Linked DNA regions of Homo sapiens. The protein of the gene in region 2 purifies or fractionates together with the protein of the main gene of each other region. This does not show direct contact. Each region holds a gene or a part of one and is shown on either strand. Other genes may lie near its edges.

Evidence for each region.
Region 1: the proteins of CPEB1 (region 2) and NMD3 purify together in Homo sapiens (affinity purification with mass spectrometry; 2 studies listed by BioGRID and IntAct, with this or other methods). This does not show direct contact.
Region 3: the proteins of CPEB1 (region 2) and MOV10 purify together in Homo sapiens (affinity purification with mass spectrometry; one large-scale study listed by BioGRID and IntAct). This does not show direct contact.
Region 4: the proteins of CPEB1 (region 2) and HNRNPUL1 purify together in Homo sapiens (affinity purification with mass spectrometry; one large-scale study listed by BioGRID and IntAct). This does not show direct contact.
Region 5: the proteins of CPEB1 (region 2) and HNRNPR purify together in Homo sapiens (affinity purification with mass spectrometry; one large-scale study listed by BioGRID and IntAct). This does not show direct contact.
Region 6: the proteins of CPEB1 (region 2) and YBX3 purify together in Homo sapiens (affinity purification with mass spectrometry; one large-scale study listed by BioGRID and IntAct). This does not show direct contact.
Region 7: the proteins of CPEB1 (region 2) and DHX30 purify together in Homo sapiens (affinity purification with mass spectrometry; one large-scale study listed by BioGRID and IntAct). This does not show direct contact.

Annotation. Positions count from the first base shown.
Region 1 is NC_000003.12:161,238,311-161,241,810, reverse strand, and holds part of NMD3 (60S ribosomal export protein NMD3), read right to left. Parts: intron 3,082-3,500; coding exon 2,985-3,081; intron 766-2,984; coding exon 648-765; intron 1-647. UniProt on the Homo sapiens protein: Acts as an adapter for the XPO1/CRM1-mediated export of the 60S ribosomal subunit.
Region 2 is NC_000015.10:82,546,364-82,549,863, reverse strand, and holds part of CPEB1 (cytoplasmic polyadenylation element-binding protein 1), read left to right. Parts: intron 1-205; coding exon 206-404; intron 405-2,626; coding exon 2,627-2,721; intron 2,722-3,342; coding exon 3,343-3,423; intron 3,424-3,500.
Region 3 is NC_000001.11:112,673,258-112,677,458, forward strand, and holds the start of MOV10 (helicase MOV-10), read left to right. Parts: upstream 1-1,401; 5' UTR 1,402-1,472; intron 1,473-1,480; exon of another isoform or gene 1,481-1,590; 5' UTR 1,591-1,655; coding exon 1,656-1,792; intron 1,793-2,233; exon of another isoform or gene 2,234-3,493; intron 3,494-4,201.
Region 4 is NC_000019.10:41,267,372-41,270,871, forward strand, and holds part of HNRNPUL1 (heterogeneous nuclear ribonucleoprotein U-like protein 1), read left to right. Parts: intron 1-851; coding exon 852-974; intron 975-3,500.
Region 5 is NC_000001.11:23,320,285-23,323,784, reverse strand, and holds part of HNRNPR (heterogeneous nuclear ribonucleoprotein R), read left to right. Parts: intron 1-52; coding exon 53-229; intron 230-2,121; coding exon 2,122-2,257; intron 2,258-3,500. UniProt on the Homo sapiens protein: Component of ribonucleosomes, which are complexes of at least 20 other different heterogeneous nuclear ribonucleoproteins (hnRNP). hnRNP play an important role in processing of precursor mRNA in the nucleus.
Region 6 is NC_000012.12:10,706,324-10,709,823, reverse strand, and holds part of YBX3 (Y-box-binding protein 3), read left to right. Parts: intron 1-3,500. UniProt on the Homo sapiens protein: Binds to the GM-CSF promoter. Seems to act as a repressor. Also binds to full-length mRNA and to short RNA sequences containing the consensus site 5'-UCCAUCA-3'. May have a role in translation repression.
Region 7 is NC_000003.12:47,837,638-47,841,137, reverse strand, and holds part of DHX30 (ATP-dependent RNA helicase DHX30), read right to left. Parts: intron 262-3,500; coding exon 1-261.

The DNA.
Region 1 (3,500 bases), on a different chromosome or scaffold from region 2:
CAAAATTTAAAATAACTGCTAGACACCAAATTTTGGCAATGGACTTAAGTAAATAGTCACAAAAATTAAATGAGGTAAATAAGTCAATTTCAGGCTGGACATGGTGGCTCACGCTTGTAATCCCAGCACCTTGGGAGGCCGAGGCGGGCAGATCACGAGGTCAGGAGTTCAAGACCAGCCTGGCCAACACAGTGAAACCCCGTCTCTACTAAAAATACAAAAATTAGCTGGGCATGGTGGCAGGCACCTGTAATCCCAGCTACTTGGGAAGCTGCAGCAGGAGAATAGCTTGAACCTGGGAGGCGGAGGTTGCAGTGAGCTGAGATTGCGCCACTGCACACCAGCCTGGGCAATAGAGCCAGACTCCATCTCAAAAAAAAAAAAAAAAAAGTCAATTTCAGTAAAAATTAATGGAATAAACCAGTAAATATGTAAAAATTAACAGAATTGTTTCTTTAAATAAAAAATACAAAAGTAACTAATCAAAGCTTGCAAATTCCACAATGTTTTGTATTAAACAATAGCACAAATTTTAACTAACCTTTCAAAACAATATTAGCAAGAATGCTTGAAAAATTAACAACACAAATTATTATTGTTTGTCATACAAAACAAAATTGTCAAGGCAAATCATTTCCAGAATTTACCTTGTAGGGTGTTTGGATCAATGAGGTGAATGGCACTGGTTACTCGAATACACACACAAATCTGGTTCATATTTCCCAGGCTTTGTGCCAGTTTTGGAGACAGACAGACAACATTATCCTAGGCATAAGAACTAACATTTAGAATGAGGCATATCCTAAATAACAGTCCAATAAACACTCATCAATAAACACCCAATCCAATTGCATTTGACCAACCAAAACGTTATTTTCAATTCTATCAATCAACAAAGAGACTAAAGAAAAGAATCAGACCTTAAGTATGACAGGCATCTTGTCTTAATAAAAATGCTTTAAAAAAAAAAAAATCCTGGCTGAGCACGCTGGCTCACTCCTGTAATTCCAGCAATCTGGGAGGACAAGGTGGGAGAATCCCTTGAGCCCAGGAGTTCAAGTCTAACCTGGACAACATATGGAGACCCTGTCTCCATATACATATATATATATATTTTAATTAGCCAAACGTGGTGGTGCATGCCTGTGGGCCTAGCTACTTGGGAGGCTGAGGTGGAATGACAGCCTGGGCCCAGGAGGTCGAGGCTTCAGTGAGTTAAGGTGGTGCCACTGCACTCTAGCCTAGGTGACAGAGCAAAACTGTCTCTCAAAAAAAAAAAAAAAATCCAGGGCCCAAATCACCAAGCTATTATTATTTCCATTTTATTGCAGTGTGAATGCCTCTTATCACTCTATATGTTAATACAGTGTACATTCTAAACAGAGTATTATAAACATTAGCAGGAGAGTGATTCTATAAATCCACCTGTGACTTCTTTCAATCTCCATTAAAAAATAAACTTCAAAGGAACACATTTCTCTTACATGGCTACATGTGCCAATATACAATCAAAGATTTAAGCCCAAAAAAGTCACATGTCTACATTTATATTGGGAGACATGAAGCAGCAACGTAATTATCTGTTTTTAAACTGAATTAAAATACAAAAAAGATCTGAGTTATATTTTAAGGTGTATCTATTCACAATCATAACAGCTCTTAGTTCAGTCCTTGGTTTTTAATACATGAGTTTCCAAAGATAAACAAATATACTTTTTTACATAGTTTAATACATATGTTAATTTTTACATGTGTAAAACTCAGTTACACAAGGCCTAAATATGCCCTCACACCTAAATTCATATTTCTCAAGATTTGTACCAGGGAAACATTTACTGTTTTAAACCAGAGGTTGGCAAAATGCCACCCTCAGGACAAATCTGACCCACCATCTGTTTTTGTAAATAAAGTTTTACCAGAACACGGCCCTGACATTCCTTTACATATTACCCATGCTACTTTTGTACAACAGCAAAGCTGAGTAGCTGCAAAAGAGATTATACGACCTGAAAGTTAAAAAATTTACCATCTGTCTCTTTACAGAGAAAGTTTGCTGACCCTATTTTAAGCTATCATTTCATCCCTAGTACATACTATAAAATAGCAATAGCAGTTTTAAAGCTTTGGAGACACAGACCTGGGTGCAAATCCTAGCTTCATCATTTTGTGATCATGTAACTTTGGGCAAGTTATCTAACCTCCTCAAACTTCAATTTCCTCATCGTCAAAATGATATGGCTTACCTCAGTTATTATGAGATGAGAATGAGGTGAAAGACACTAAAGTATCTAGATTAACTTTATGTAGAATGGTCACAATAATGGCAGTTATCATTCTTAGTGATTTAATACTGACATATAAATTCTTACATGGCAGAGACCTGTAGTTATACAATCCTCAGTACACAGCCTTCTATACTATAGATACTCAATAACTATTTATTGAATTTTAATTCATATTTTTCTGAAGCAGAGTTTTATCTTAGTACAATTAAATGAAATAATCTACATTTTAAATGTTTTATTCAGCTTATGTTTTAAAATCATAAAAATGATTCTATGATCTCATTTTCACATTATCACAATATTCTTTCATTTCTTGCCAAAATTTTGTTTGTACATATTCCACAAAGTGGCTCACTAATATTGATTTTAATGTCATTTCTTTTATTCAATTTCACTGAACTATATGATACAGGCTCATAGGATCACAAATTTCAAAGAATACGGACTTTTATCAACTATAACCAGGTCTTTTCATTTTAATACACCAAAATAAAAGGCATGTCAATTCATAATTATAAGCATGACTTTTTTAAAAATATATATCTTTTAACATGGCTGAATGTGTTAGAAGTCACTTAAGGAACTTATTCTAAATTTTTAACCAACCCTAGAGGAAAACCAGGAGCTACAAATTACATATAAGCCAATTAATTACTTGTACTCTTTTACAGATATGGATTAAATGAAAAAGAAAAGTACCTTGCATATTGGAACAATTTCCACAGAAAAAGTGCTTTTGTAATTGTATGTGTTACTATGGATATCTTGAGAGATCAGTCTTTGTGATGCTTTGTATCTATTAAGAAAAAAGTTAGTAGTAATATAAAGACAAAGATCATTAACCTGTATGGACTCAGGAATATCAATTTTCATTAAATCAAACCATCATTGTCCAAGGTCTAAAATGGCTTCATGATGCCTCCTCTGGTAAAACCTACTGTCCTGCACTTGCATGTCAAAACCTTCACCATTCTAACTAAGCCCTACCTATTTTGAACCTTTTCCACCAAACCTCTAGAACATGCTGTTGGCTCAGACCAATCTACTTTCTATATAGCATTATTAAAAGCCATACTAACGCCCACTGCAAATCTTTGTTCACACTAATAGTACCTTTCAATATAAACTCCAGCTATGAAAATTTCCCGATCTTTGGAGCACAAGTCCTACCACCTCTGTGAGTGGGTGGTTAACCCAATATATGCTTCCTGATTG
Region 2 (3,500 bases):
ACTCAGTAAAATTCAACTCCAGTTGGGGTGGAGTCAGGGTGGTTTATTGGACGCCTGTGTGCCTGAGATTGGGCAACAGCACCTTTTCACCCCTGTAAGGGCGTTAGCTTAGCTTCAGTATCTCCAGAGCACGTACCTTGCCGTGCAAGCACCTCTCTCTCTGTGGCTCTCTGCCAGGGCTGATACACCTTTGGGTGGTTTTCAGGTGCAGGTGATCCCCTGGGTATTAGCCGACAGTAACTTTGTCCGGAGCCCATCTCAGAGGCTTGACCCCAGCAGGACGGTGTTTGTCGGTGCTCTGCATGGAATGCTAAATGCTGAGGCCCTGGCAGCCATCTTGAACGACCTATTTGGTGGAGTGGTGTATGCCGGGATTGACACAGATAAGCACAAGTATCCCATTGGTAAGTGTCCCACTTCTGTGTGCGAAAGCTTGGTTGGCCCCTGGGAGTAGACCAAGATTGTGATACTTCCCCATGGGAGTGAGGAGAGAGGCCTGACCCAGGTCTGCAGATCAGCATATACCAGCACCATAATATCTTTTTCTAGACAAGTCACGAGTACTGGCCCTTCTGTATCTAGCCCTCTACCCACCATCTCCCACGCAGTGGGAGAAAAAGCTATTGGAGACTACAGGAGGTGATAAGAAGTGAGAGTGAGGTAGGAACTTTGTTGGAAGCTCAGAGTTCACAGCGAAACCAGTTTGGAACAGACAACAGGTACTATTTCATGAAAAGGCTGCAATTCTCTGAACTTGCCTGGAGTTTTTTATTAAAAGTTCTTGAAAAGCTCTGGCATTGTCTAAGGTCAGAGACCAGGTCAGGCTGGAGGAGGACTTTCTGAGTGAGTCAGGCAACAGAGTGTGGCCTGTGCTTTCCTAACTCAGAAGTCTGTGGGCCTAACCACTAGGTTTTGATCAGCTCCTCTGAGAAAGGAGGTCAATTCGCCAGTCCTGGCAAAATGTCAATGATGAGGTATGGAGGTGGAGCAGAGCCTGACCTCTGTGATTAACATGTGGCTAACCCACCTCCCCAAATGCTTAGTCTTCACACCCACACTGAATCTGGTCAGGAAGGAGCACCATGTACTCACCAATACTGTGCAGCAGATTGAGAACAGGGACTTCAGAAGCCCCAGGAGCGGAGGAGGAACTTGGCAGGATGGGGCTTCTTCCAGCTCTCTTAATAGGTCTCCAGAGTGCCTAAGGGCTAGGAGAGGTTCAGTTCAACTGCTGGGCTTACCCTTCAGACAAGTGTTCTATCTGCATCTTGGCTTCCACTCTGAATCCTTTAACCTTAACCTATGCTCTACCTGCACTGAAGGAGTCCCTTATCTTTCCTTCCCATCTTGATCTGCAAATTCTTCCCCCATTCCTGAATGGTTCACGCTAACATGATCTCCACTGTCAAATATGGTACGAATATGGTAGCTACCAGCTAAATGTGGCCCCATTGAGTTTTGGAAACACAGCTGTTGTCACATTTGGAAATAATATTATTAACATATAGGGTTAAATAAAATTTTTTTTTTGAGATGGAGTCTCACTCTGTTGCCGTGCTGGAGTGCAGTGGTGCTATCTCAGCTCACTGCAACCTCTGCCTCCTGGGTTCAAGTGATTCTCCTGCCTCAGCCTCCTGAGTAGCTGGGACTACAGGTGTGCGCCACCACGCTCAGCTAATTTTTGTATTTTTAGTAGAGACGGGGTTTCACCATGTTAGCCAGGATGGTCTCCATCTCTTGACCTCATGATCCGCCCACCTTGGCCTCCCAAAGCACTGGGTTTACAGGTGTGAGCCACCGTGCCCGGCCAATAAAATATATTATTAAAATTAATGTCACCACTGTTTTAAAATTTCAGTGTGACTACTAGAAAATTTAAAGTTACATAAGGGCTGACCATGATGGCTTATACCTATAATCCTGGCACTTTGGGAGGCCGAGGTGGGGCAGATCGTTTGAGTCCAGGAGTTCAAGACCAGCCTGGACAATATGGTGAAACCCTGTCTCTACAAAAAAATACAAAAATTAGCCAGGCATGGTGGCTCATGCTTGTAGTCCCAGCTACTTGGGAGGCTGAGGCAGGAGATTGTTTGAGCCTGGGATGCAGAGGTTGCAGTGAGCTGAGATCACGCCATTACACTCCAGCCTGAGTGACAGAGGGAGACCCTGTCTCAAAAAATAAATAAAGTTACATAGTAGCTCACATTATATTTCTGTCGGACAGCACTAGTATCGTAAAGGGTTTCCTGCATTTTAAAAGAGTAGCATTAGGGCAGGCTCGGTGGCTCACGCCTGTAATCCCAGCACTTTGGGAGGCTGAGGCGGGCGGGTCACAAGGTCAGGAGATCAAGACCATGCTGGCTAATGGTGAAACCCGATCTCTACTAAAAATACAAAAAATTAGCTGGGTGTGGTGGCAGATGCCTGTAGTCCCAGCTACTCGGGAGGCTGAGGCAGGAGAATGGCGTGAAACCGGGAGGCAGAGCTTGCAGTGAGCAGAGATTGCGCCACTGCACACCAGCCTGGGCGAAAGAGCGAGACTCCATCTCAAAAAAAAAAAAAAAAAAAAAAAAAGTAGCATTTGGGAGAATTTGGTTAGAAGGGAAGCTTGTGTCTGTTGTCCTAGGTTCTGGTCGTGTGACTTTCAATAACCAACGGAGTTACCTGAAAGCAGTCAGCGCTGCTTTTGTGGAGATCAAAACCACCAAGTTCACAAAGAAGGTGAGTTGGCTGGTTTATGCCCTTACTCTGGGGTATATGAGAGGGGTTTGGGCAGTTACTACCCAGGGCAGGCCTGAGACCTGAAGCTGTTTGTGCTGGGTGTGTTTAGGGAAGTGAGCCAAATTCCTGAGAATTAACATTGAGGTTAGGGTTTGGGAGTGGGCTTGGTCTTTGTACGCCCAGGAGGAAGGGAACTGGGACTGTTGAGCCTCTTCAGTGTGTAGGGTGCCTTCCCTCACTGTGGTATTTCTTTGGCATTGCTCAGTAGCCTGACTTCCTATTTTCCAACCTTTTGGGAATCCTCCGAACACTTGCCTATACTGCTAATTGATAGAGGGCTGAGGTACAGTTTGCCTAGAAGACCAGGCATTAAGGTGTGTGGTTGCCTGAATCCCAGAGGCATCCAGCCTGACTGTGCATGGTGTATGAGTCTGTCCTCTAGAACTCCTTTCTGTACTTCAGGCCCATAATTCTCTCCAAGCCTCCTTTAAAACAGGCAAATATCCTGCATTCCAATATCCCGCATTCCTGTGTGTGGCCAATAATGTGCCCTTCTTCTATCGCCTATCGAGCCTCCTGGTAAGAAGAGCCACTTCATCATCTTATTTTGCCTTTGTGCAGGTTCAGATTGACCCCTACCTAGAAGATTCTCTGTGTCATATCTGCAGTTCTCAGCCTGGTCCTTTCTTCTGTCGAGATCAGGTGGGTCCGATGTCTATGAAGTCCCTGCCCTCTATTAAAAATTGTTGGCTGGGCGCGGTGGTTCACACCTGTAATCC
Region 3 (4,201 bases), on a different chromosome or scaffold from region 2:
ACATAGCATCACACTTTTTACCCAAGGTTTTACTATACTGCAGACTTTTGTGTACGTTTTGAGAACATCCAAGACATAAACCTGACCAGAGAAGAAGGGAGATTGTATCCAAGAATAATAGGGATTTAGATTTGCTGGTCAGAATGGAGCCAGACATTCAGTTTGAGTACGGTTGATGGTACGTTTTTGAGATGGTAAGTAACAAGGCAATTTTTAAGAGTTCACCCTCTCTATTCTTCTGGAACCTCATCAGGACATTGAGGGAGAAAAAAGGTAAAATCTTTGGCTGCTTTTCTAGTTTTTTCTTCTACTTTGCATAATAAGTTTGTAAGATGTTTTCCTCTGCCCTATTTTACCCATCCCCGTAGCTTTGGTTCCCACTGACATTGCATTTCCTGTTGCTAAAGCCTGTTATTCCTGGCTTCATTTGGTTGTTGGCCTGAGAGAAGGTACCGGGTAGCCCAGCTGGAGTATGACCTGGGTTCTGGACTTTCTTCAATTCCGTAGATTGAGTGTGTGGCCTCCTGCTGGTAGCTACTATGGAGAACAACACTAGCTTTGATTTATTTGAAAGTGATGTATTTGATTTAAAACTTTGTAGTGTAACTTAGCTTGTCCCATTCTAGTGTGTGTGTCATTTCATTCTGCGGGAAAAAAATAGATACAAAGGTTTGTTATTGTAGCCCCACCCCCTTAAATTTGTCTATACAGTCTTCTGAAGCACACTGCCCTTTTAGTTCTCTTCTTGGTACTGATGCTGTCACTATTAACCACTTATTATTGCCTAACACAACAGTCCCTTACGCTCAAGATGCTAGTATTTTGATGAATATAAGGGTCCACCTTATATACCAGTAAAAATTAAAGAGCAATACAGACTGGAATGCAACGAAGCGCCCAAATATGTGGCTCAGGGGTAAGGGTCGGTCACCAGCCTTTCCACATAAGCCGATGTGGCAGAGAAAAGCAATTACTGTGTATCCTGGCAGAGCCCCTTGTCCCTCCCTCCCACACGTACACACCTTTATCTCAGAGACACTGGGTTCTTTTCCCCAAACTTCTTTGACCCTTATGCCAACTACGTGCGTCTGAAAGCCCGAGAAGGGAAAATGGGGGAGGGGGCGTGTCGCCCCGAGTTTACGTCCCTGGAAGGCTGGGGGAGGCGCTGGATGAGCTTCCCCATTCCGGCCGCAGCCGACCTAGATCCCAGCCCTGCCCTTTGCTCTCCTGCTTTTCACTGAGTCCCGAGGCTCTGGAGGGTGGGCGTGAGGGTAGCCCTGGCTGAGGCTCGGAGGTCCTCCCGGGCTGTTCAGAGGGCCCCAAGCGGTAGCCACGTTCTGATACTGGCTAGAAGCCAGGGGAGGGAGCTTGGGGTAAGGGGAGGGCCCTGAGGGAGGGGTCAGACGCTTTAGGAAAGAGTTAATGCGAAGAGGGGGAGGGGATAGGACGAAGAAACCGAAGGGAAAGCTCAGGTAAGAAAAGAACGGAGGAGGGAAGCCTGGTGGGGAGAAGGGAGCCCGCAGGATCAGGGGTCAGAGTTAGGGGGCTTCCCTCCTGCTGCACCCTCATCTCAGGGCCGCCAACTTCCAGCTGCAGCGGCGACTTTCAGTTTCATTTCCACGGACCCTCCTGCCTGGGCCGCAGCCGCCGCCGCGATGCCCAGTAAGTTCAGCTGCCGGCAGCTCCGGGAGGCGGGCCAGTGTTTCGAGAGTTTCCTGGTCGTTCGGGGACTGGACATGGAGACAGATCGCGAGCGGCTGCGGACCATTTATAACCGCGACTTCAAGATCAGGTACGGGCCGGCCCACTCCCGGCCCCGAATCGCGGGCCCAGCTTGCTGCCACGACCCCCGCGCGAGGGCCACCTTTCCCGCCCCGGGGCGCAGAGGGACGCAGCTCCCCCAGCGGCTCAGGCCAGTCCCGGGGCGGCGCAGACCTCCCCTCCCGCGCCTCGCCCACGCCCCACCAGCGCCGCCCGGAGCCCGCCAGTTCTGCCCGAGCTGGGCCCCTGCGCCAAGTCGCCGCGGAGAGCCTCCCGCGCTGCCCGCGCCCCCGGAGGCCGGAACCCGGGGCCGGGAGCTGCGTCCCGCGTCCATGCGCCGCTCGCGGGGGCTGAGGGACAGCGCTCGCGGTGGGGGAGGGGAGCCTCCAGAGGGGGCCCAGGCATCGCGGGAGCGCGGGTTAGAGGCTGCCTGTTGGGGGCTGCGAGCCCGAGCGCGGGCTTTACAGGGACCTCTGCCACCTTGTTGAGGCGCTGCTGCCTCGGGGGTCCGCTATCTGGGAGAACTGAAGAGGCCCAGGGTAGAAGGGAGAAGCTCAGGAAGCTCTGGAAAGAAGAAAAGGGCACAAACTACGTGCGTACCAAACCTCCATTAGCACCTGTGGCTTCTCCATGGAGACCCAGGGGCAGAGCCAGCCTTCTGGAGGCTCCCTTTCACCCTGTGGCTGAAGGCTCTTTGGTCTCCTTTTCCTGCTACCACCCAAGTGAAAATCAAAGAGTCTTCTGTCACACCACAGAATTGTGCTTCAAAAACACGTTTATCAACAGGCTGCTGCCTTGCGTGGAAAACCAAGAAGCAGTTTAACAAGGGTAAACGTAAAGACTTGTACAAATAAACATAAGGTAGTGGGAATCTGGGCTTAATAACAGACCTCCCGAAAAAGACCTTGGGTTTTAGCAGACCAGAGGGCCAGTATGGGTGAGATATGGCTGCTAAAACAGCTGAAGTCTAAGATTGAGCTAACAGAAGTGTGATTTGGGGTGGGGGAAAAGGGTAGAGACTCTCCATATTGGTGAAATCGTGTCTGGAATATCGTTTTCACTAATGGTTATCACATTTGGAGAGGGATATTAACAGGCTTGAACAACATCTGAGAAGGGGCAAAGATGATGAGGCCCTGTTTTATGTCACCATGCTGGACACTATGGGGACTCTTAAGATGAAAAACACACAATCCCAGAGGAGCATCAGAGGCTATGATATGCATGCAATATACATGTACACAATATAGGATAGTACATGGTAAAATGGAGGATTATACTAGGGATGGTAAGAGAAAAATGCTGGAGGAAAGAGCGAGCATTTGCATCACATGGTATCAACACTTAAGGTATGTGAATTCACCTATATCCACAGAGTACAACATGGCTAGGAAACAAGTCACCTACTTCTTTTGGCTCTGTTAAGGAAAAAGTAATTGGTTAAAACAGTAAGGCTGACTTGACTCAAGGCTATGGTAATAGGGTATTGCAATAGGAAAGAAGAGAGTTGGAGCTCAATTCCGAATACAGCAAAAACAGCGGGGGATTTATGACCAATGAACAGAGTAAGGGGATCAATATATAGAAAATTACTAAGAGGAGTCATAAAGAGTGGGAGGATTTTTGCTCACCTGACCTAACAAGATTCTTGTTAAAGGCAGACCAAGGACTTGTACATCAAAGGCGGGAATGAGGAACTTGATCAGATATCAAGCGTGGTCATGCATCAAGGGTGAGGAGTCTCACTAAAATGACTTCAGTATTCTTGCTAAAACTGAACTAGGTGGGCCTAAGACTGAAGGGTTTGGGGAGGCAAGGTCAAGGGCTAGTCAAAAAGAGGGCTCAGGGGAGTCTAACAAAAGTTTGATCAAGGAGAGTCTTTGTCAGCTCTAAACCAAAGGTACATAGTATGTTTTAGTACTGGGGAAAAACTGGTTGTGTTGGATTGCATACAGAAAGCCAGATATACTGTATATTATGGGTGAATGTAGGCATTTTCCAAAGTAGTTTTTACTGTATGCACTTGTGTTTATGCAGATAAGATACCACTCCTCTGTAATCATTAGGGGATGTGATGGAGAAGATGGCATTGACTTTAGCCTTGAAAGAGATAAAATTTTAGTACATAGAGGAGGTGGAAAGGCCTTCTATGTGGGTTCATATTCTATCCTGAGACCCAGTGAAAGAAACTCAGAAATATTTGCCTCAAAAATAGAAAAATCAGACAGTACAAGGTAATTATCCTTGACTATTTTGGAGTGTTATAATGGATAAGATTGCACTCCTGTGTCACTCCAGAAGACAGAAGCGGGTTTCATCAACTATCCCCGCTCTGTACCCTCATCATGTTGGGGAAATGTATGTTCAGATTAAAGAACTTGCCTACACATCCTTTAAAGCCAGGCTGGAATGCTGTGAAGTCAACCTTCATTTCCCAGTA
Region 4 (3,500 bases), on a different chromosome or scaffold from region 2:
TGGAGCCTGGAAGCAGCAGAATAGTTTGAAAGGGCCCCATATTCCAATTAAGGAGATAATGCTATTTCTTCCTCTCTCCCTTACTTGCTACAACAAAGTCCTTTGAGCCCCCTTCATGCCTCCCTTAAGCCCTCCTTCAACCTTGGTAAACAGACCGGTAGCAAACCACATGACCTGTGACTTTCCTCCCTTTGGGCTGCACCTGGTTTGTGCCCAGATGTATTTATCCTCTGAGAAGGAATCCGATCAGTTAGCAAGTGGCAGAATAGTCTCTCCTTCCCTTTGGTTCTGGCTCACGGCTCCTGGCATAGCCACTGGTAGGGCCCTTGGGGCCCTAACTGAGAGCTAGCCCCTGGGGAGGAGAGCCTGTATGCTGCCCATCCTAGCTTTCTAAAGTTCTCTCTGGGTTTGGCTGCAAGGTTCTTGAGGGAATTTCTGGTTTTAGTTCCACCTCTGAGCTTTCACACGTGTTATCCCAACCCCAGTAACATTCTCCATTCTCATCACTGAGTCATTACCTGTGTATCCTTTGAATCAAGGCTTATCTGTTATTTTCCAGGTCCCTTTCTTCATTCCTGGTACTACTTTGTAGCCTTCAACACAATCATATTAAATTTTTGTGTGTCTTTAAGATTTGTCTGTCTCACTAAACTGAAGGCTTCAGTGGGGCAAGCTTGTCTTCAGCTGTATCCCAGGCTCTGGAGTATAGTATGCATGCCATGAATAGTTAATATTATTATTCTTACCACTCTTAGTTGAGCTCCTGGACCTGCAGATGCCTTCTGGATGCTTTGGTCCAGGGTTCTTCATGAACCGCCCCTCTAATTGGCCATTTTTAATTTTGTTTTAAGATGCCATGGACAATATTACCAGGCAGAACCAATTCTACGATACCCAAGTCATCAAACAAGAAAACGAGTCAGGCTACGAGAGGAGACCACTGGAAATGGAGCAGCAGCAGGCCTATCGTCCAGGTAGGAAAATACACATGGTTCATCTCTTTGGATGGAAACAATCTACATGGAGCCTTTACCCCCTGCTTAGAGCGGGTCTTCCCAGAGAAACTGTGCATCTTTTTTCTTGGGCAGTTCATCTAAACATTGTCACTCTGGCAAGAATTGTTTAAAGGAAAGATCTCAGTCCTATTTCCAAGTGTTGGGAGAGGGGAGGTTCCATGGTATCTGTAAAAAAGTGATGTTAGTATCAGCCGGGTGTGGTGGCTCCCTCCTGTAATCCCAGCACTTTGGGAGGCCGAGGCAGGTGGATCACCTGAGGTCTGGAGTTCGAGACCAGCCTGGCCAATATGGTGAAACCCGTCTCTACTAAAAATACAAAAATTAGCCAGGCATGGTGGCAGGCACCTGTAATCCCAGCTACTTGGGAGGCTGAGGCAGGAGAATCACTTGAACCCAGGAGGCGGAGGTTGCAGTGAGCCGAGATCGCGTCATTGCACTTCACTCAGTCTGGGCAACAAGAGTGAAACTGCATCTCAAAAAAAAAAAGATGTTAGTATAAGCACCCTGGAGAGTTGAGACCCCTAGACTAATACTTGAATCTTATTTAGAATCTTAGAATGGGGGAGCCAGAAAGAGCCTTCTAAGTCTAATCTGGTATTTCTCATGTTCTGAAGATTATTGTTTCAGGGGATATTATTAGGGGATTCTCAGAAAAGGGTTCCTTAGCCAAATGTGTCTGGAAACTGTAGCATGTGCTATATCGTCTCTTGGAAATTCACTGTGCTTGTTAGAACATTAAAGGCTCTGAGAAGTCCAGAATTTAAAAAAAAAAAAAGAAAGTGTGTGTCAGGCCTCAGGCCAGGTGCGCTGGCTCATACCTATAATTCCAACACTTTGGGAGGCCAAGGTAGTAGGATCATTTGAGACCAGGAGTTCCAGACCAGACTGGGCAACATAGTGAGACCCCTTCTCTACAAAAAATTTAAAAATTAGCCAGGCATGGCTATGACTGACTACATGCACACACCTATAGTTAAAGCTACTCAGGAGACAAAGGTAGGAGGATCACTTGAGCCCAGGAGTTTGAGGCTGCTGTGAGCTATGATTACACTACTACACTCCAGCCTGGGTGACAGTGCAAGACCCTGTCACGAAAAAAAAAAAAAAAAAAAAAAACCTAAAATTAAAAGTAGGTTAGAACACAGTGGCTCATGCTTGTAATCCTAGCGCTTTAGGAGGCCAAGTCAGGAGGATCACTTGAGCCTAGGAATCCAAGACTAGCCTGGCAACATAGTGAGACCCCTGTTGTCTTTAGAAAAAATTAAAAATTGCCTGAGCATGGTGACATGCTTGTAGTCCCAGCTACTCAGAAGACTGAGTCAGGAGGATCACTTGAGCCCAGGAGTTCAAGGCTGCAGTAAGCTATGATCGTGCACGGCACTGCAGCCTGGGCGACAGGAAGACCTTGCCTTAAAAATAAAAACAGGCCGAGTGCGATGGCTGTTACATGCCTGTAATCCCAACACTTTGGGAGGCTGAGGTGGGAGGATTGCTTGAGTCCAGGAGTTCAAGACCAGCCTGGGCAACATAACCCTGTCTCTATAAAAAATAAAAATATTACCTGAGCATGGTTGCACAATCCTATAGCCCCAGCTACTCTTTTTTTTTTTTTGAGACGAAGTCTCGCTCTTGTTCCCCAGGCTGGAGGGCGATGGCGCGATCTCAGCTCACTGCAACCTCCGCCTCTCGGGTTCAAGCGATTCTCCTGCCTCAGCCTCCCAAGTAGCTGAGATTTCAGGCGCCTGCCACCACACCTGGCTAATTTTTGTATTTTCAGTAGTGACGGGGTTTTACCATGTTGGCCAGGCTGGTCTCAAACTCTTGACCTCAGGTGATCCGCCCGCCTCAGCCTCCCAAAGTTCTGGGGTTACAGGCGTGAGCCACTGAACCCGGCCAAGTCCCACCTACTCTGGACCCTGAGGTGGGAGGATCACTTGAGCTAGGAAGTTGAGGCTCCATGAGCCATGATGGCAGCACTGCATTCCAGCCTGGGCAACAGTAAGCCTCTGTCTCCAAAAAAATTTTTTTTTTAATTAAATTTAAAAACCTTGTGTCTTCTTGGGCTGGTGTTGCTGAAAATATTTTTTTTAATAAAAAAATAGACAAAAAACCTTGTGTTGTATCGTTTAAACTTAGGATTTCCCAATCATGTTAAGTATATGTCTTTACAGAACAAAGTTCCCCATGATGCCAACTCTCCCTTCCCTTTTTTTTTTTTTTTTTTTTGAGATGGAGTCTCGCTCTGTTGCCCAGGCTGGAGTACAATGGTGTGATCTTGGCTCACTGCAACCTCTGCCTCCCAGGTTCAAGTGATTCTCCTGCCTCAGCCTCCTAAGTAGTTGGGACTACGGGCGTGCCACCACACCCAGCTAATTTTTTGTGTGTTTTTAGTAGATGTGGGGTTTCACCATGTTGGCCAGGATGGTCTCAATCTCCTGACCTCATGATCTGCCTGCCTCGGCCTCCCAGAGTGCTGGGATTACA
Region 5 (3,500 bases), on a different chromosome or scaffold from region 2:
GCTCTAAAATCAAATGCTTATGTTGGATTCTAATAAGGGGGTTTTATTTCAGGTATTTGTAGGCAAAATACCAAGGGATTTATATGAGGATGAGTTGGTGCCCCTTTTTGAGAAGGCCGGACCCATTTGGGATCTACGTCTTATGATGGATCCACTGTCCGGTCAGAATAGAGGGTATGCATTTATCACCTTCTGTGGAAAGGAAGCTGCACAGGAAGCCGTGAAACTGGTATGTGATAATTATCCACTGTCTTAGCAAGTCACTATTTGAGGAAATAAACTTTAATTCAAAAATGTTTGTAGTTAACATTATTTTGATTTCTTCAGTTGTTGCTTGGAATGTTTTTATACTGACCAAGTTGGTATGTGACGTTTATTTTTCTCTGACTATAAAAGTAAAAAAGAACTGAAAATACCCAAAAAGTAATGTTTTATAGAAAGTCTCCCATTGATTTAAGAAGTTATCTATTAGATTGATATCAGAAGTTTCATATGAGTATTTGGCTTATGCATTTCTGTCTTTTGGTTTTAGGCAAAAGGATGTCAATTCTTGATGTTAAACTTTAGGATTCTTAAAGTATAATGAAGACTGGAATGGGCTGTGGGGAACATAATAGTGGATGACAGTGACTTAGGATTCAATTCAGAAAATAGTTGTGAATCTGTTTTATTTTGGTTACAGCCTACTCATACGATTTATTTCATATTTTCTAAGTGTATTTTTGTTCTTCCTGTATGTTTCTTGGCCCTTGAGTCTTCTCTGTCTTTAATCTTTCTCTCCTCTCCTACTATTTATAGCCAGTCTCATATTAATTTCCTTTCTCTAGGGCCTTTAACCACTTGGTGCTCATTTCAGACCAGTAGTAGTAGCAACAAAGTTCTGCAAATCAAATGTATCTTCACTCCTGCTGTATTTAAGACACAGCTATCTCAGTATCTTAAAATAACAATGTAATTATTTTTTGGCATACCCTTGCCTGACTTCTGAGGACCTCACTAAGTCTAGTTCTAGCCTTTGTAGAATGGTCAACTTCTTTCATCAAGGCTTTGGTTTCATTACTGGTGTCTGAATTAGTTCCACTCCTAGCTTGACCCAGATTTTAGTTTTTATTATGGATTTTTTCTTCAAACTTGTTTATTTAATATTAAGTTTTCATTTTTGGCAGCATATGGATGATTTTATTTTTAATAATCATATCTCTTAGTAAACTAATGGTTAAATAATATTAAAGTATAAGAAGCTAAAATTGGCCAGGTGTGGTGGCTCACGCCTGTAATCCCAGCACTTTGGGAGGCTGAGGCAGGCAGATCACCTGAGGTCAGGAGTTCAAGATCAGCCTGGCCAACGTGGTGAAACCCTGTCTTTACTAAAAATACAAAAATTAGCTGGGCGTGGTGGCGCACGCCTGTAGTCCCAGCTACTTGGGAGGCTGAGGCAGGAGAATCACTTCAACCCAGGAGGTGGAGGTTGCAGTGAGCAAAGATCATGCTACTGCCCTCCAGCTTGGATGACAGAGCGAGACTCCATCTTAAGAAAAAAAAAAAAGGGCTACAATTTATCAAGAAAATCCACTATAGTGATTTAAATAAAACATTTTTCAAAATTTTATAAAATTTTGAAAGTATTGTGTTTGGTAGACAATTTAAAACTATATATTTAGAATTCTGTGACTTCTGTAGAATTTGAAATTTTTCTAATATCTTTGCATTGATTAAACATAGTTGTTACCCTTTACATATTGTTATTTTGAGTATGGCTTACCTATATGCAATTACATTTCCAAGGACCCTGAATGATCAGTCTCAGGTATTTTTTTCTGAAAAATCTGTGGAAAAACATTTTCAGATAGATAAAATTAAAATATGAAATAAGATATTTTAAACAATAAAGTGAGTCCTTTTTATATGGAAGAGTAGTGAAGGTTAACAAAACCAAACTAAAACAAGAGACTGTAACAATGAAGTTTAAAATATACATTCATATTATGGAAAGCATGAGGGAACTTGGTGAGTTGATGAAGCAGGGAGCGTTTGGCCTTAAATTGTTGAATTTTTTAGATTAAGATCAATTGTCCTGAGTTTGGGGTGGTTTTGGGGTCTCTGGTTCTTTTCTTATTGCAGTGTGACAGCTATGAAATTCGCCCTGGTAAACACCTTGGAGTGTGCATTTCTGTGGCAAACAACAGACTTTTTGTTGGATCCATTCCGAAGAATAAGACTAAAGAAAACATTTTGGAAGAATTCAGTAAAGTCACAGGTAAAACAAAAATGTATTTAGAAATTACTTTTGCGAAATATGTTGTACTACTTACAAGTGCTCAAAAAAACTGAGGGGTTGTATGTATTAAATTAAGAATTCAGGTCTGAAGTATCTAAATTGCTTCCTTTCTGCTTTATAGTGGTTTGGGTTTAAGCAAGTTCCCTTATATCCTTCATTTCTTGGAATGTCCCCTTCACTTCTTTGTCTTAATTGAACCTTGGCTTTTGCTGGAGCTTTTGCTCTATAGCCCTCAAGTGAATGCTTTTTTTCCCCTTGACAATTAGTGTATTTTAGGACCAAGAGGATGAAAGTTTTTACTCTCTCCCTGCTGCCTTGTCTAGATCAGATTTTTTTTTTTTTTGAGACGGAGTTTCGCTCTTGTTGCCTAGGCTGGAGTGCAATGGTACGATCTCGGCTCACTGCAACCTCCGCCTCCTTGGTTCAAGCAATTCTCCTGCCTCAGCCTCCCGAGTAGCTGGGACTAGCATGTGCCACCACGCCTGGCTAATTTTGTATTTTTAGTAGAGACGGGGTTTCTCTATGTTGGTCAGGCTAGTCTAGAACTCCCGACCTCTGGTGATCCTCCCGCCTCGGCCTCCCAAAGTGCTGGGATTACAGGCGTGAGCCACAGTGCCTGGCTGATCAGATTTTTTTAAATATCCAATTCTAAATCCATGGAATTGATTGAGAAGTAGATTTTATATCACAGTTCTATACACATTTATATATAACTGAAACAATTTAACAAAACTGTACTTTTATTTATTATACATGATTTATTTTGATATTTCTTATTCTATTTCATTTTTTAAAATGCCAATTGTGATCTAATACTACCTATGATTTAAAAACACTGCGTTAGACCGCTGCCTCCCCTTGTAAAAACCACTGTTTCTTTACATTTTTATCATCCAGACATATCCTTTCCCTTTTGTTGAAGCTGTCATTCGTTGCTCTTGTGGTTTCAGCCTTTCATTAATCTAAAGATTGCTTCTGGCTCACTGTCTTCCTCTTCTGCCCTAAATTGGCTTCTTTCTAATACCTTTAACATCTACATTGGTGAACCATCCAGGGCTTTAGACTCCTACCTACTTCTATGTCTACCTCATCTTTAGTCCTTTACTTCAGCTCCACCATATCCAGATTACATTCTGGATCTAGTCACCAGAAATTCTATGCACTCTGAACTCTTGATTTCTAGCGTCCCACTTTGTAACCACTGCTACCACCCGCTATATTG
Region 6 (3,500 bases), on a different chromosome or scaffold from region 2:
CAGCTGCCAGAAACCTTGCTTATGGCTTCCTGATGCTACAAAAGCTGAGGCAAGGCCTTCAGTCTGTTTTTTCAAAGCAGTCATTCCGGTAACACTTCTAAAAGCAAAACCACGTGATCCATGCCTATAATAGGGAACCCTTATGGCCAAAGTTTCTAGTTGATAGAAGAACAAAAGAATTAAGGTAACAAGACAGGTGGAATGTGTAAGAGCTTGGACTCTGAAGTCAGGCTGGATTTGAATCCTGTTTCTGCTACTTATTTGTGAGGTTTTGAGAAAACCAAGTTTTAGATTAAGTTCATCCATTAAGTGGGGGCATTAAATGCCTGCACCATAGGGTTATGATGATTAAATATAAAGGATTTAGCAAAAGAGATGCCTGCAGCATAAATAACATTTTTAAAGTATTGGTTTTAAATGAGACAGTGCTGATTTTTAAAGGCAACCTACCAGAATGGAGGTTGTTGATTATTGATTCTCCTTTTTCACTGCAGAATATTAGTACAGCTGTTTTGAGTTTGTTTTGTGCTTAATAAACCTTACATCAATTTTGCAGTTCCTAGGGAACTTGGAAAACTAGGGATAGATCATCATTTTTGTTATCAGTAGCCACAACTTTTTTCTCCTCAGTGTCGTTGGGGTTTCTTTTTTTTCCCCTCACCGCTAGATGTTTTGACCGAACATTATGTTCAGTCTGTTCTTTGCTACCCTTCTCCTGTCCCATCATGCATGACTGTGTTCTTTCTTGTTTTTTTCCTTCTACTCTTCAACAGCTGCCCCTGACAAATGTGCTAAAAATAACAAGTAGACTTACATATATGGAGAGATTGGGTACATGAGACATAGTAGCTTTAGGGCAGCACTCTGGGCTTCTAGGAAACAAGGACAGGAAAAGTCAGTGAGATTGTAATATGCACTTATTTTTAGCGTCTTAATAGTGCTTTCCTGAAATACTCCTCCTTAGTGTTTGGCTTATACAACATATATCACGTTTGCTGAAAGCATGATGATTCTTTTTCATATCTTTTGAAATAAAATGTATTTCACCTTAGGAATTGAAGTTTCAGAGCAAAGTCGTTCCTTAGTGCCACGTAAAACATCATATGCAGAAGCTGATCGAAAGCTGCTTTTGAACATGTACGCTTATTCCTGTAACTTAACTGCATTTAGTTAATTGACTGAATGGCTGACTTTCCTACCTATTCCATGTCAGAAGTAAAAGTTGTCTTGATCCTTTAAACCATATTTTTTAATAATCTTTATAATATCTACTAGCTCTCTGACTAAGTAGTCTGGTTAAGCCAGTCAAGAGCATCAAAAGAAAATTCCTAAAGCTCTCATCCATATAACTAAGCTACTTCAAGGTTGTCAGTGTGTTCTCTTAAAAATATATAGATGGATCTCTAGGATAGTAAAAATTATTGAGATCAAATATAAAAGTCTTCGCCAACGTTTTCTACTATTACAACGCTATGAAATTTATTGGGCATAATAGAAAAAAAAAATAGGAATATATAGGCCAGTGGTATTTGCCTTATGCACTAAGGACATAATATAGCATGATTTATTAGTGACTGAATAACTTCCATTTTTAAAGAAAATAGTTCTATAGATTTGAAAATTAAGTAGAATCATTCACTGAGCTACTATGTGCTTGTTGTCTTTGAGAAAATAATTATATGATGGAGGGAAGGGAGCAACATTGTGGCATCTACCAGGTGACAGATATTTGGAATCGGTTCTTACTTTAGTTGTCTCTAGAGCCTGAGGGAAGCAGTGGTTTCCATATTTTTTGTTGTTGTCACAAATGAAGGAATTTGATTACTTTTAAAAATCAGCAACTTTTATTTTACATGGACAAGAAGTGGTAGAACTTAATTTTAATTCATTTTGTTCTTGTCATCCAGTCTTTCTGGCAGACTCTCATCCTTTATACACGTTAATTGCTGTTTCTGTCAGTCTTTTTTTGTGACTCAACAGTTTCTGAGGAAGAAATGGCCGAGCTTACTTAGGAAACTAAAGAGAGGCTCATGTGATGGGGATGATGTGAATGAAGGGGGAGAGGGTATGAGGTGAGATCTCAGGGGAGGTCAGACATGCTGGTAGACCACTGTAAAGACTTGACCTACTGTAAATGTGATGAGAAGCCAGTAAAGGGATCTCAACAGAAAAGAAACATTGAAGAGATTATTGGACTGTTTTGTTGGGACTAGACCACAGGAGGTAAGAGTATAAAAGCAGGGAGAACAGCTGCTATAATCTTTTCAGTAGAGAAATGAACATGGGTTGTATTAGAGAAGCTGGCAGTGGAAGGTCTGATTAAATGGTTAGATTTGGAAAATGTTTTAAGCATATAGAGGTGTTGGCATTTCATGATGGATTGAGTGAAGAGTATGAGGAATGGTAATATATTGTATGAGGAGTAAATAATACCTCTGCAGTTTTGATTTAAACAAATACGGGAATACTGAAGAAAGATTGGGTTTGGAGGGAAAGGTGAAAATTCTTTGGAGGTCTTTTTCTCATATTAAATTCACGTACAAGTGGAGGTGTTAAGTAGGCAGAAGAAATAAAGCAGAGGGAAGAGGTAGAAAGTGGCTGGAGGATGGAAGGTGTAGTCTTAGATACAGTGGTTGACAACATTTTTGGGAGTTCATTAAGTTGTATTTGAGAAGAGACCTAAATGGAGCAAGGGATCAAGTCCATCAGGTCCCAGGAAAGGCGTGAATGGGAGTCTGAAGGGGAGAAATGGAACTGCAAATAATTATTTGGAATTATTTATTTATTTATTTATTTATTTATTTTTTGAGATGGAGTCTCACTCTGTCACCCAGGCTGGAGTGCAGTGACACGATCTCGGCTCACTGCAAGCTCCATCTCCTGGGTTCATGCCATTCTCCTGCCTCAGCCTCCTGAGTAGCTGGGACTACAGGCACCCGCCACCACGCCTGGCTAATTTTTTGTATTTTTAGTAGAAACGAGGTTTCACTGTGTTAGCCAGGATGGTCTCAATCTCCTGACTTTGTGATCCACCTGCCTTGGCCTCCCAAAGTGCTGGGATTACAGGCGTGAGCCACCGCTCCTGGCTGATTTGGAGTTATAAAACAGGATGTTTAAAGCCGTAGGGGCAGGATGATATTAACTATAAAGTGAGTGTAGGTGGAAATAGGGTCCTAGGATCAAGTTCTGGGACACACCAACGATTAAAGATTAGGAAGATGAGGATTGTCTAGCAAAGGACAGTGAGAAGGAGCAGCCAAGGAGAATGTATTTCAAGAAAGAAATGTGTTAAATGCTTGTTGATAAGTAGAGATTAAGCTGAGAATTGATTATTAGATTTGGTAACTTGGAGGTCAGTGGTTTGGTGAAGACAAAAGTTTAAATAGAATGAACTTAAGAAACAGCAAAGGGCGGGAAGAGGAGACATATTCCCCATTGAGGTTTCTGTAGTGGTGGTCATGGTGTTTGGTTTTTCTTTAGTATGTATGTCTGTAAAGAAA
Region 7 (3,500 bases), on a different chromosome or scaffold from region 2:
GGACAAGAAGTCGGTAACATCTATGGTCCCTTCTTCTAGCTCTTCCTCCTCGTCCTCCTCTTCTTCCCGGCCTAAAGAGCGGGATAGGCCCCCAGGTCCCCCTGGTCGAATACTCTCTGGATTCAGCTGCCGCCAGGAAGTAGGGGGCATGGTGGGTTCCGGACGCCACCAGCTGTCGGCAGGGGAGCCAAAGCGATCAGCTAGCACTCGGTATTTGGCTGCGTCAAACAACTCATTCCGGGGACCTAGCAGACCCCAACCCTGGAGGGGAAAAGGGACGTTTTAAGGATTGATACCATCTTTACACCTCAGTCGGCCTGGTCCGTGTCCAGCTACACCGTTAAGTTGTGTTGTGCAGCCGTGGTTTTTCATCTGTTTACCCACTTCAGCCCCTAGTCCAGAACTGGGCATGGAACTCTCAAAGATGCCTAGCTTTGATGCAAACAAATAACCCCACATGGCAATGGGTGAGCAGAAGATACTGTTTGTTTTTTGTTTTTTTGACACAGGGTCTCGCTCTGTCACCCAGACTGGAGTGCAGTGGCACAATCACGGCTCACTACAACCTCTGCCTCCTGGGCTCAGGTGACCCTCCCACCTCAACTTCCAAAGTAACTGGGACTAAAGGCATGCACCACAACGCCCAGCGAATTTTTGTAGCAACAGGGCTTCACCATGTTGCCCAGGATGGTCTTGAACTCCTGGACCCAACAGATCCGCCCGCCTTGGCCTCCCAAAGTGCTAGGATTACAGACATGAGCCACCGCACCAAGCCCAAGAAGATACATTCACATAATGATCTAGGAAGCTTCAGTAAATACAGCAATTAAAAAGTACGTAGGGCCGGGTGCGGTGGCTCACACCTGTAATCCCAGCACTTTGGGAGGCCGAGACGGGCGGATCATGACGTCAGGAGATCGAGACCATCCTGGCCAACACGGTGAAACCCTGTCTCTACTAAAAATACAAAAAAATTAGCCAGGCGTGGTGGCGAGTGCCTGTAGTCCCAGCTACTTGGGAGGCTGAGGCAGGAGAATGGCGTGAACCTGGGAGGCGGAGCTTGCAGTGAGCCAAGATCATGGCACTGCACTCCAACCTGGGCGACAGAGCAAGATTCCGTCTCAAAAAAAAAAAGAAAAGAAAAGAAAAAAAAATACGTAGCCAGACGGGCACAGTGGCTCACACCTGTAATCCCAGAACTCTGGGAGGCCCAGGCAGGTGGACTACTCGAGGTCAGGAGTTGGAGACCAGCCTGGCCAACATGGCGAAACCCCATCCTCCTAAAAATACAAAAATTAGCCGGGCGTGGTGGTGGGCACCTGTAATCTCAGCTACTCAGGGGGCTGAGACAGGAGAATCGCTTGAACCTGGGAGGCAGTGGTTGCAGTGAGCTGAGATGGGGCTGCTGCACTCCAGCCTGGGCAATAGAGACTCCACAAAAAAACAAACAAACAAACAAACAAAAAAACCTATGTAGCCCACACCATGAAACGGATACAACTTCTGTTATAAGAAGTTATATATAAGAATATAAGAATCCTGAAGGCTGGGCACGGTGGCTCACGCATGTAATCCCAGCACTTTGGGAGGCCGAGGTGGGCGGATCACCTGAGGTCAGGAGTTTGAGACCAGCCTGACCAATATGGAGAAACCCCGTCTCTACTAAAAACACAAAATCAGCTGGGCATGGTGGTGCATGCCTGTAATTCCAGCTACTTGGGAGGCTGAGGCAGGAGAATCACTTGAACCTGGGAGGCAGAGGTTGCGGTGAGCTGAGATCGCACCATTGCACTCCAGCCTGGGTAACAAGAGCAAACCTCCGGCGAAACTCCGTCTCAAAAAAAAAAAAAAAAAAAAGAGAATATAAGAATCCTATGTTAGGAATACATTCTAGAGAAATAACTTGAAATGTTAAAGCTATTTATACAAAAATATGATTTTAAATGTGTTATAGCTTCATGCTTTTCTACAGAAAATATAAATTAAACATTGCCTAAGTCTCTAGCATGTACGCAGCAACATGTTGGCCACCTAAGCATCATCAGGAGAGACAAGACCTGGTCCTTGCCCTCAAGCAGTTCGGAATATAAGAGGCAGTTAGCCAGGGGTGGTGGTATGTGCCTGTAGTCCCAGAGACTTGGGAGGCTGAGGCAAGAGGATCACTTGAGGCCTACAGATCGAGGCTGCAGTGAGCCATGATCACACCACTGAACTCCAGCCTGGGTGACAGAGCAAGACCCTATCTCCAAAAACAAACAAACAAACAAACAAGGAATCTAAGCAGCAGAAGAGAAATGCAGATGGCCAGGGTCTAAGGAACAAAGACGTGGGTGAGATGAGTGAGCAGCTGGGAGAACAGGAGCAACTGCAAAGAAAGCACAGGTTGCAGGAGCTGCCACTGGGAGTGGTAAAGGCGACAAAGTCTGCGGGACAGCAAGAACAAGGCCTGTCAGGTGAACATCAGGGCCATGTGACAGCAGACAGCACGGGCCACGGGCCAGGAACCTCTCTACAGTGAGCTTTCAATCCCACCCAACTCATGACAAGCTGGAGAGTGACCATGGCCTGCCTTCATAAAACTTTCTCCTTGGGTTTTTGAGATAATTAAATTTAATTTTAAAAATTCTATTCACAACAGTAACAAAAACCATCACCTACCTAAGGTGAACTAAGGTGGGTCAGAAAGGTATGGACTAAGCACACAACTTGGCAAAAGGATGTAAATCCATGGAGATATATGTTCCTGGATGATAGAACTTTTATGTGTGAGGAGACAAAAACCTCTTAAATTAATCCATAAATTGAACACAATTCCAATCAAAGTCTGCAGAGGCTTCTTATTAAGCATTTGACAAACCAATTCTAAAGTCTGTCTATTAAGAATAGACGCGTGAAAACCGCAGGATTATGGGACAGACGATGGGGCCAAGGTATGCCACACACACATTCGCGAACCCTTGGGGCAGGGCCCGATCCAAGGCTCAGCTGCCACACTTTTGCGTCACCGCCTCCCTTCTGACAAGAATGCCTCTGGTTCCACAGAGCAGCAATACAAGCATCCCTCCTTGGCCTGGCTTCCCCAGCAGGACAGCACCGTTCTCCCCCTGCCTTTGCAACCACTCTTTCACTAGACCAGAGGATCTCGTCCCCACAGGCTCACTGCTGGTCCTGGCCATGCTCCCACACCGGTCCTGAGCTGTACCAACATCCACCAGCCACTGTTCTTGCCATAACCTAGGCGCCAACCCATTGCTCGTCCACAGCTCCCCCTGCTGGCGCATGCTGCCCCTCCAACCCATTCTCCCTCCCACCTCCTCAACTGTCCAGGAGCTGTCCGTGCAACTTCTCTAATACCTTTTTGTTGTTGTTCCTTTTTAGAGACAGAGTCTCACTCTGTCACCCAGGCTGGAGTGCAATGGCATCATCTCGGCTCACTGCAACCTCTGCCTGCCAGGTTCAAGCGATTCTCCTGCCTCAGCTTCCTGTGTAGCTGGGATTAC